Linked DNA regions of Homo sapiens: region 1 is linked to region 2. The links come from fine-mapping of genetic effects on gene expression. A gene starts in region 2. The other region holds a variant in brackets. All regions are shown on one strand. Distances are between the middles of the regions.

Region 1 (4,393 bases), 61 kb after region 2:
CATTAGCTGGGTGTGTTGGCATGCACCTGTGGTACCAGCTACTTGGGAGGCTGAAGTGGGAGAATTGCTTGAGCCTGGGAGGTTGAAGCTACAGTCAGCTGTGATTGCACCACTACACTTCAACCATGGCAATAGAGTGAGACCCTGTCTCAAAAAAAAAAATTATCAGCTATTACTATAATTATTTTTATTAGTTCCTCACTCACCTAAAATCTCAAACACACCTTAGAAATACACATATGAGAACAACCAAAAATGACAAAGTAGAAGCACATATGAAAAGGCTAAGAAAGCATGAAAGCCAGCAAGAAATAACTGCCGCTCTTCTGGTCAGCCTGGAAAGCAACTGGCATTTTCCCTAGAACAATGTTTTCAAACTTGGTTGCACATTAAAATCACCTAGAGACCTTTTAAAAATTCTGAAACCCAGGCCACACCCCGACAAATGAAAGCACAGTCTCTGGGGGTGGGACATAGGCATCATTTTTTGAAGGTCCCCACTTGATCCTAATGTGCAGACAAATTTGAAAACCACAGCTTTGGGAGGCTGAGGTGGGTGGATCATAAGATCAGGAGTTTGAGACCAGCCTGGCCAATATGGTGAAACCCCGTCTCTACTAAAAATGCAAACATTAGCTGGGCATGGTGGCGCATACCTGTAGTCCCAGCTACTCTAGAGGCTGAGGCGGAAGCATCAGTGAGGGAGAATCAGTGAACCCAGGATGTGGAAGTTTCAGTGAGCCCAGATCACACCACTGCACTCCAGCCTGGGCGACAGAGCGAGACTCCACCTCAAAAACAAAAAGAAAGAAAGAAAAAAGAAAAGCAGTACTCTGGAACCTACCAATCCATCATTTAGCATATTTGTGAAGTAAAGTGTTATTCTGGTATTTGCAGAACCAGAATCCAGCTTTATTGGGCCAGGCCCAATTTTTTTAAAAAACATGGTAAGGTCTCCCAGCCTTAAAGTATTACATAGCATAGCTCTAAAAGATCACTGTAGGAAGACATAAAATGGTATTTCAGTCATCTAAGGGAAAAACCTTCCTAAAGCACTAGCCCCTGGACAACTATTATTTAAACATCTACAGCTGTTCAATAGATATTGGGTTCTTTTTGGAGGGATGTGACAAAATTCTTGTATAATTAGATTGTGATGATGATTGTATCAGTTTAGTACATGTAAATACACTGAAAACCATTGGATTATACACTTTAAATATGTGATTTGCATGGTATGTGAATTATGTCTCAGTAAAAATCTAGAGATGGGGCTGGGCTCAGTGGCTCACGCCTGTAATCCCAGTACTTAGGGAGGCTGAGGCCAGCGGATCACCTGAGGCCAGGAGTTCAAGACCGGCCTGGCCAACATGGTGAAACTTCATCTCTACTAATAATACAAAAATCAGGCCGGGCCTGGTGGCTCACGCCTGTAATCCCAGCACTTTGGGAGGCGGAGGCGGGCGGATCACGAGGTCAGGAGTCCAAGACCAGCCTGGCCAACATGGTGAAACCCCGTCTCTACTAAAAATACAAAAATTCACCAGGCGTGGTGGCTGAGGCAGGAGAATCGCTTGATGGTGGAGGTTGCAGTGAGCCGAGATCGCGCCACTGCACTCCAGCCTGGGTGAAAGAGCGAAACTCCATCTCAAAAAAAAAAAAAAAAAAAAAATCAGCCAGATGTGGTGGCAGGTGCCTGTAGTCACAGCTACTTGGGAGGTTGAAGCAGGAGAATCGCTTTATCTCAGGAAGCAGAGGTTGCAGTGAGCCAAGATCATGCTGTTGCATTCCAGCCTGGGCAACAAGAACAAAACTCACTCCATCTCAAAAAAAAAAAAAAAATATCTAGAGATGGGAGAATCATATGGCTGGCATAAAAAGGTCAAGTCAAAGATATGTAAGATTAAGGCTTTACGATGCTCCAGTTCTAGTAAAACAGACCAGGTACTTGTTTTGGTGTGAAATTGCCA[A/G]TATAAGTATAGTACTGTACATATTAGTTGTTTAGCTTAGGTAAGTCTTTTAATCTCTTTAAACTCCAGTTTCCTCATCTATAAAATAAAGAGAATATCTACTTTGCAAACTTGTTGTGAGAGTGAAAAGTAATGCATATAAAGTCCCTGTATGGAGCAAGTACTCAATAACTATTTGTTGAACTAAAAATGATAATACTGATATTCACCATTTATTAGCATCCCTATGTGCCAGACACTGTAAACAATTAAAAGTTATCATTCTGGTACCCAGAGTACAGTATGAGACAGACATGCAAAAAAAAAAAAAAAAAAAGATAATGGAGATCTGCATAGCATAAGATGCAGTGGGACCAAACGGGAAAAAACACCTAAATGAGCCTGGAGAAAGGAAGAAATGATAGAGGTGGTGATGCTTGAGCTATGATCTAAAGGTTGAGTAGTAGCTTGTCAGACAGTAAAGGGGAAAGGACAGGGCAGGGAGGGGCCATTGCAAGAAATTCCATGCAGAGGGATTATGGTATTTCATTATCACTGAACCTTAAACTGTGTGTGTGGCCGGGTACGGTGGCTCATGCCTGTAATCCTAGCACTTTGGGAGGCCAAGGTGGGCAGATCACTTGAGGTCAGGAGTTTGAAACCAGCCTGGCCAACATGGTGAAACCTCATCTCTATTAAAAATACAAAAAATTAGCCAGGTGTGGTTGTGGGTGCCTGTAATTCCAGCTACTTGAGCAGCTACTTGAGAGGTCGAGGCAGGAGAATTGCTTGAACCCGGGAGGCAGAGGTTGCAATGAGCTGGTGTCAGGCCACTGCACTCCAGCATGGGCAACAGAGAGAGACTCCATCTCAAAAAAAAAGTGTGCGTGTAAAACAGACAGTCTTTGTAGGAGATGAGGTGAAGCAAGTAGGCAGGAGTTAGATCCTGAGTTACCTTTGGGCCAAGCCAAGGAGTTTTTATTTTATTCCATATAGATGACAGTCACTGCAGAAATTTGAACTGATATGCATATATCATGAGGTTTTTTTGTTTTAGAAATATTATTCTGTCAGTCATAAGTGAAGGGACTGGGGACATTGGGACTGGAGGCAAAGAGATCTTATCTCTTTGCAATAGTTTGAAAGCTATTGCAATATTTGAAGAGAAGATTGATAAATGCTTGAACCAGCACAGTGGCAGTACAGATGGAGGGAGCTGACTACAATAAAATCATCAGGACTTGTTGATTGACATGATATAGGAAGTGAGGGACAGGGATGAGTCAAGGCTGATCCCCCTAGATCCTGACTAAGGAAGCTGGGTGGTTGACAGTGCCATTCACAGAGACAGTGAATTCTGGCATAAACACCTAATAGGTCAGGCTGGTTTACACCTCCATCATTCCCATGGGAGAAGGTATAGAGGGGTGTGTGTTTGTGTGTGTGTGTGTGTGTGTAAAAGAACACAGAAAGCCAGATTCCTCTTTTTGACACCAGAATATTGGTTCCCACCATAGTCAAAAGGATATTCCTGAGGATCGAGGCTTGGAAAAATATTGGGGAAGGATAAGAACTCCAGTTGTTGCTGCTTTTTTTGGCAGCCAGTGTAACCTAGGTAAGGACTTGGTTGAATTAAGAAATTTCATGTCCAGATCAGGATGGATTTTTCTATTTCTCTGAGCTCTGGTGTGTTTCCCACTCAGATTGCAGGTCGTAGGTACCTACGGTGTGAATTGTGTTGTGTTTCTGTGCTTGTGCAAGGGAGTAGCTAGGTTGCTGGGAGGTCTGGATGAGGGTGGGGGTGGGGTGAGATCAAGTCTCCAGCTCCAAGAGGTCCCCTGGGGCTAAGTGAAAAGCTTGCTCTTTTGAAATGGTCTTCGTTGGTAATTAACAAAAGATCAAGAATACCTTGGTGTCAGATAAAGGGAATTTGTAGGCACAATGCTGTTGGTAGCTGATCTCAATCATTCAAGGAAGCTATTAAATCTATGAACATTAGCATTCTGCCAGGTAAAGAGATCTGGTCCTTAGCACCTCCCAGACACACTGATTCTTTACTGTTTTGAAACATCTCCCTCTCCTGGCTTCCTCCACCCCGCTTCCATACTGTCCTTGAAATCAATGAATGGTAATTTAGTGTATCTAGTGTATCACTAGCAAATGTCTGAATAAGAAAGGTTTGGTTTCCGCTGTGTCTCCTGTTACAATGAGAACATGTACTGCATAAATTTAATTGGCTACGTTAATGTGTAAGCCTTTTCTGCAAAGAGATGGATCCGTTTCTGAATATTCTGCAGAAGGGCAGAGTTTTGAGTATATGGCAGTGGTTCTAATTAGCAGTTGCTCCAATACAATCAGACTGAGACGGAAGCTACTCATTTAGAATACTGGTTGATGACAACACTGGCTTGAACAAAGTGACCACTCTCCAATGGCTACTCTCC
Region 2 (4,393 bases):
TCCACGTGCCAGAAAACAACCAGCCGGGTGCCTCCATAGCGCAAGTCAGTGCCTCTGACCCAGACTTCGGGCTCAACGGCCGTGTCTCCTACTCTCTCATTGCCAGCGACCTGGAGTCACGAACGCTGTCGTCCTACGTGTCCGTGAGCGCGCAGAGCGGGGTGGTGTTCGCGCAGCGCGCCTTCGACCACGAGCAGCTGCGCACCTTCGAGCTCACGCTGCAGGCCCGCGACCAGGGCTCGCCCGCGCTCAGCGCCAATGTGAGCCTGCGCGTGTTGGTGGGCGACCGTAACGACAACGCACCGCGGGTGCTGTACCCTGCGCTGGGTCCCGACGGCTCCGCGCTCTTCGACACAGTGCCGCGGGCCGCGCAGCCAGGCTACCTGGTGACCAAGGTGGTGGCCGTGGACGCGGACTCGGGGCACAATGCCTGGCTGTCCTACCACGTGGTGCAGGCCAGTGAGCCCGGGCTCTTCAGCCTGGGGCTGCGAACAGGCGAGGTGCGCATGGTGCGTGCTTTGGGTGACAAGGACTCGGTCCGCCAGCGCCTGCTAGTCGCTGTAAGAGATGGAGGACAGCCACCCCTTTCAGCCACTGCCACGCTGCACCTGGTGTTCGCAGATAGCTTGCAAGAGGTACTGCCGGATTTCAGCGACCATCCCACACCCTCTGACTCCCAGGCTGAGATGCAGTTTTACCTGGTGGTGGCCTTGGCCTTGATTTCTGTGCTCTTTCTCCTCGCGGTGATTCTAGCTATTGCTCTACGCCTGCGACAGTCTTTCAGCCCTACTGCAGGAGACTGCTTTGAGTCAGTTCTCTGCTCCAAGTCCGGACCTGTGGGTCCCCCCAACTACAGTGAGGGAACGTTGCCCTATGCCTATAATTTTTGTGTGCCTGGGGATCAAATGAATCCAGAATTTAATTTTTTCACATCTGTTGATCATTGTCCAGCCACACAAGATAACCTCAACAAAGATAGCATGCTACTGGCTAGCATTTTAACTCCCAGCGTTGAAGCAGATAAGAAGATTCTTAAACAGGTAAGTATTTAAAAATGTATTTAATCCTTTTTATATTACAATATGCCAATATATTCCAATATAGTGGTATTATTTTAAGATTCTAGATAACTTCTTCATAGAGTTCGCAAAATATAGGTCAAATTTATGGTTATCATTATTAAAACAAAAGTTTAAATTAAATGCCTCAGTCTTCCTACTATTCAAAGACATTTTAAAGCAAACTACATGGGTAATCTCCGGTGACATTTTTATGAAGTAAAATACCTTTCGGTTAAAAATATAAAATACAGGTATATTTTTACGGCATGGTATTTTAATTGAAACCCTGATGCTACTCAATTTTTCTCAAGTATTTCATCTTCATTTACTCAATAAAGGAACCTTGTAAGAATTATAGTTAGGCATCCTACCTGATGATTTTATCGGGACCGTATTATTTCCACTTCCAGAAATGTCGTTCCTTTCAGTCGGTTAAAATCAATTGGAACCAACTACAACCTACAAGTTTTCAGCTCCAGTAATATTTTGAAAACTTTTTAAAAATTAAGCAAGCCCTTTTAATAATTACTCCTTTCGCAGGTGTTCTTGGTAAAGTTTTAACGTCACATAATGTAAGTATTGTGTATCATCGTTTTTAAGCTCTACAAATACGTGTGATTCACAAAGGTGAGCGTAATCATTTCTTCTGGAATTTCTTAGTCGTTGCAATAATAAGAATGGGCTCTAGGCGCCGCTGCTCACCAATCAGGGAATGGGAAGCTGCGCGCCATTGAGTCCCTCCCTCCCCCGCCTCTACCACACAAAGCGGAATGAGATGGATACTCACAGATCCTGACACTGGAGACTTAGAAGTATTTTCCTTCGCTTTCTGATATATTTTGGATGTAGTCGGCCTAGGACTTCATAGATACATAAGCCGATTCACAACCAACCAGCTCGAGAAACCGCGGAATATCGGCTTAGAGCCTGCCATGGCGAATCGGCTACAGCGCGGGGACCGCAGTCGGCTGCTGCTGCTGCTGTGCATTTTCCTGGGGACGCTGCGGGGGTTCCGGGCCAGGCAGATCCGATATTCGGTGCCAGAAGAGACCGAAAAGGGCTCCTTCGTGGGCAATATCTCCAAGGACCTGGGGCTGGAGCCCCGGGAGCTGGCGAAGCGCGGAGTCCGCATCGTCTCCAGAGGGAAGACACAGCTTTTCGCTGTGAATCCGCGAAGCGGCAGCTTGATCACGGCAGGCAGGATAGACCGGGAGGAGCTCTGTGAGACGGTGTCCTCCTGTTTTTTAAATATGGAACTTCTCGTGGAAGACACCTTGAAGATTTACGGAGTGGAGGTGGAAATAATAGATATTAATGATAACGCCCCCAGCTTCCAGGAGGACGAAGTGGAGATAAAAGTCAGTGAGCACGCAATTCCTGGGGCGCGATTTGCTCTTCCTAATGCTAGGGATCCAGATGTGGGCGTGAACTCCCTCCAGAGCTACCAGCTCAGCCCTAATAATTACTTTTCCTTGCAACTGCGGGGCAGAACGGATGGGGCCAAGAATCCAGAGCTAGTACTGGAGGGAAGCCTGGACCGAGAGAAAGAGGCTGCTCACCTGCTCCTCCTCACAGCTTTAGATGGAGGCGATCCCATCCGAAAGGGCGCAGTTCCCATTCGTGTGGTGGTCCTCGATGTAAATGATCACATCCCAATGTTTACACAGTCCGTATATCGCGTGAGTGTTCCAGAAAACATCAGCTCCGGAACTCGGGTGCTGATGGTTAATGCAACGGATCCAGACGAGGGAATCAACGGGGAAGTAATGTATTCATTTCGGAACATGGAAAGCAAGGCTTCTGAAATATTCCAATTGGATTCACAAACTGGAGAAGTTCAAGTACGGGGGTCTCTGGATTTTGAAAAATATAGATTCTATGAGATGGAAATTCAAGGCCAAGATGGTGGAGGTCTCTTTACCACCACGACGATGTTGATCACTGTTGTGGATGTGAATGATAACGCTCCAGAAATAACTATCACCTCTTCTATTAATTCAATTCTGGAAAACTCTCCTCCAGGTACAGTGATTGCTCTTCTAAATGTGCAAGATCAAGATTCTGGAGAAAATGGTCAAGTCTCCTGTTTTATTCCTAACCACCTGCCTTTTAAATTAGAAAAGACTTATGGAAATTATTACAAATTGATAACAAGCAGAGTGCTGGACAGGGAGTTGGTCCAGAGCTACAATATAACGTTGACAGCCACAGACCAGGGAAGCCCGCCTTTGTCTGCAGAAACTCATGTCTGGCTGAATGTGGCAGATGACAACGATAACCCTCCCGTTTTTCCTCACTCCTCTTACTCTGCCTACATTCCCGAAAACAACCCCAGGGGTGCCTCCATCTTCTCAGTGACCGCCCTCGACCCGGACAGCAAACAGAATGCCCTGGTCACTTACTCTCTGACGGATGACACTGTCCAGGGGGTGCCTCTGTCCTCCTATGTCTCTATTAACTCCAACACTGGTGTTCTCTATGCCCTACAATCCTTCGACTATGAGCAGTTTCGAGACTTAGAACTGAGAGTGATAGCACGTGACAGCGGGGACCCGCCCCTCAGCAGCAACGTGTCGCTGAGCCTGTTCGTGCTGGACCAGAACGACAATGCGCCCGAGATCCTGTACCCTGCCCTCCCCACAGACGGCTCCACTGGCGTGGAGCTGGCGCCCCGCTCTGCGGAACCTGGCTACCTGGTGACCAAGGTGGTTGCGGTGGACAAAGATTCAGGCCAGAACGCCTGGCTGTCCTATCGCCTGCTTAAGGCCAGCGAGCCGGGACTCTTCGCGGTGGGGGAGCACACGGGCGAGGTGCGTACAGCGCGGGCACTGCTGGACAGAGACGCGCTCAAGCAGAGCCTCGTGGTGGCCGTCCAGGACCACGGCCAGCCCCCTCTCTCGGCCACCGTCACGCTCACCGTGGCTGTGGCCGACAGCATCCCCGAAGTCCTGGCGGACCTCGGCAGCCTCGAGTCTCTGGCTAACTCTGAAACCTCAGACCTCTCGCTGTACTTGGTGGTGGCGGTGGCCGCAGTCTCCTGCATCTTCCTGGTCTTTGTCATCGTGCTGCTGGCACTCAGGCTGTGGCGCTGGCATAAGTCACGCCTGCTGCAGGCTTCTGAAGGCGGGTTGGCAGGTATGCCCACGTCACATTTTGTAGGCGTGGACGGGGTACAGGCTTTCCTGCAAACCTATTCCCACGAGGTCTCTCTCATTGCGGACTCGCAGAAGAGTCACCTGATTTTCCCCCAGCCCAACTATGGGGACACGCTCATCAGCCAGGAGAGCTGTGAGAAAAGCGAGCCACTCTTGATAGCTGAAGACTCAGCTATC

Which allele goes with the higher level. Alleles are on the strand shown, and positions count from the first base shown. SD is a standard deviation of normalised expression in the study named.
With allele G in place of A in region 1, the expression in tibial artery of the gene that starts at base 1,817 in region 2 is higher (small effect, 0.26 SD a copy in GTEx).

Evidence for each region. PIP is the estimated chance that this variant, and not a neighbour inherited with it, causes the effect. A credible set is the group of variants that fine-mapping cannot tell apart.
Region 1: its variant is the best candidate, but not a certain one, in a credible set for the expression of PCDHGA11 in tibial artery (GTEx, PIP 0.78).

Annotation. Positions count from the first base shown.
Region 1 is chr5:141,480,264-141,484,656 of GRCh38, forward strand. The region is part of intron 1 of PCDHGA1 (protocadherin gamma subfamily A, 1); the gene reads left to right. The region is part of intron 1 of PCDHGA2 (protocadherin gamma subfamily A, 2); the gene reads left to right. The region is part of intron 1 of PCDHGA3 (protocadherin gamma subfamily A, 3); the gene reads left to right. All of the region lies in intron 1 of PCDHGB1 (protocadherin gamma subfamily B, 1), which reads left to right. It also overlaps PCDHGA4, PCDHGB2, PCDHGA5, PCDHGB3, PCDHGA6 and PCDHGA7, and 11 more genes. Among named protein-coding and RNA genes, the nearest start is that of PCDHGC4, 2.6 kb to the right of the region's middle. The variant A/G (reference allele first, on the strand shown) is at 1,971.
Region 2 is chr5:141,419,235-141,423,627 of GRCh38, forward strand. It overlaps PCDHGA11 (protocadherin gamma subfamily A, 11), which reads left to right and starts at 1,817. Exons shown (of 4, transcript NM_018914.3): 1 at 1,817-4,393. The coding sequence starts at 1,994. All of the region lies in intron 1 of PCDHGA1 (protocadherin gamma subfamily A, 1), which reads left to right. All of the region lies in intron 1 of PCDHGA2 (protocadherin gamma subfamily A, 2), which reads left to right. The region is part of intron 1 of PCDHGA3 (protocadherin gamma subfamily A, 3); the gene reads left to right. It also overlaps PCDHGB1, PCDHGA4, PCDHGB2, PCDHGA5, PCDHGB3 and PCDHGA6, and 9 more genes.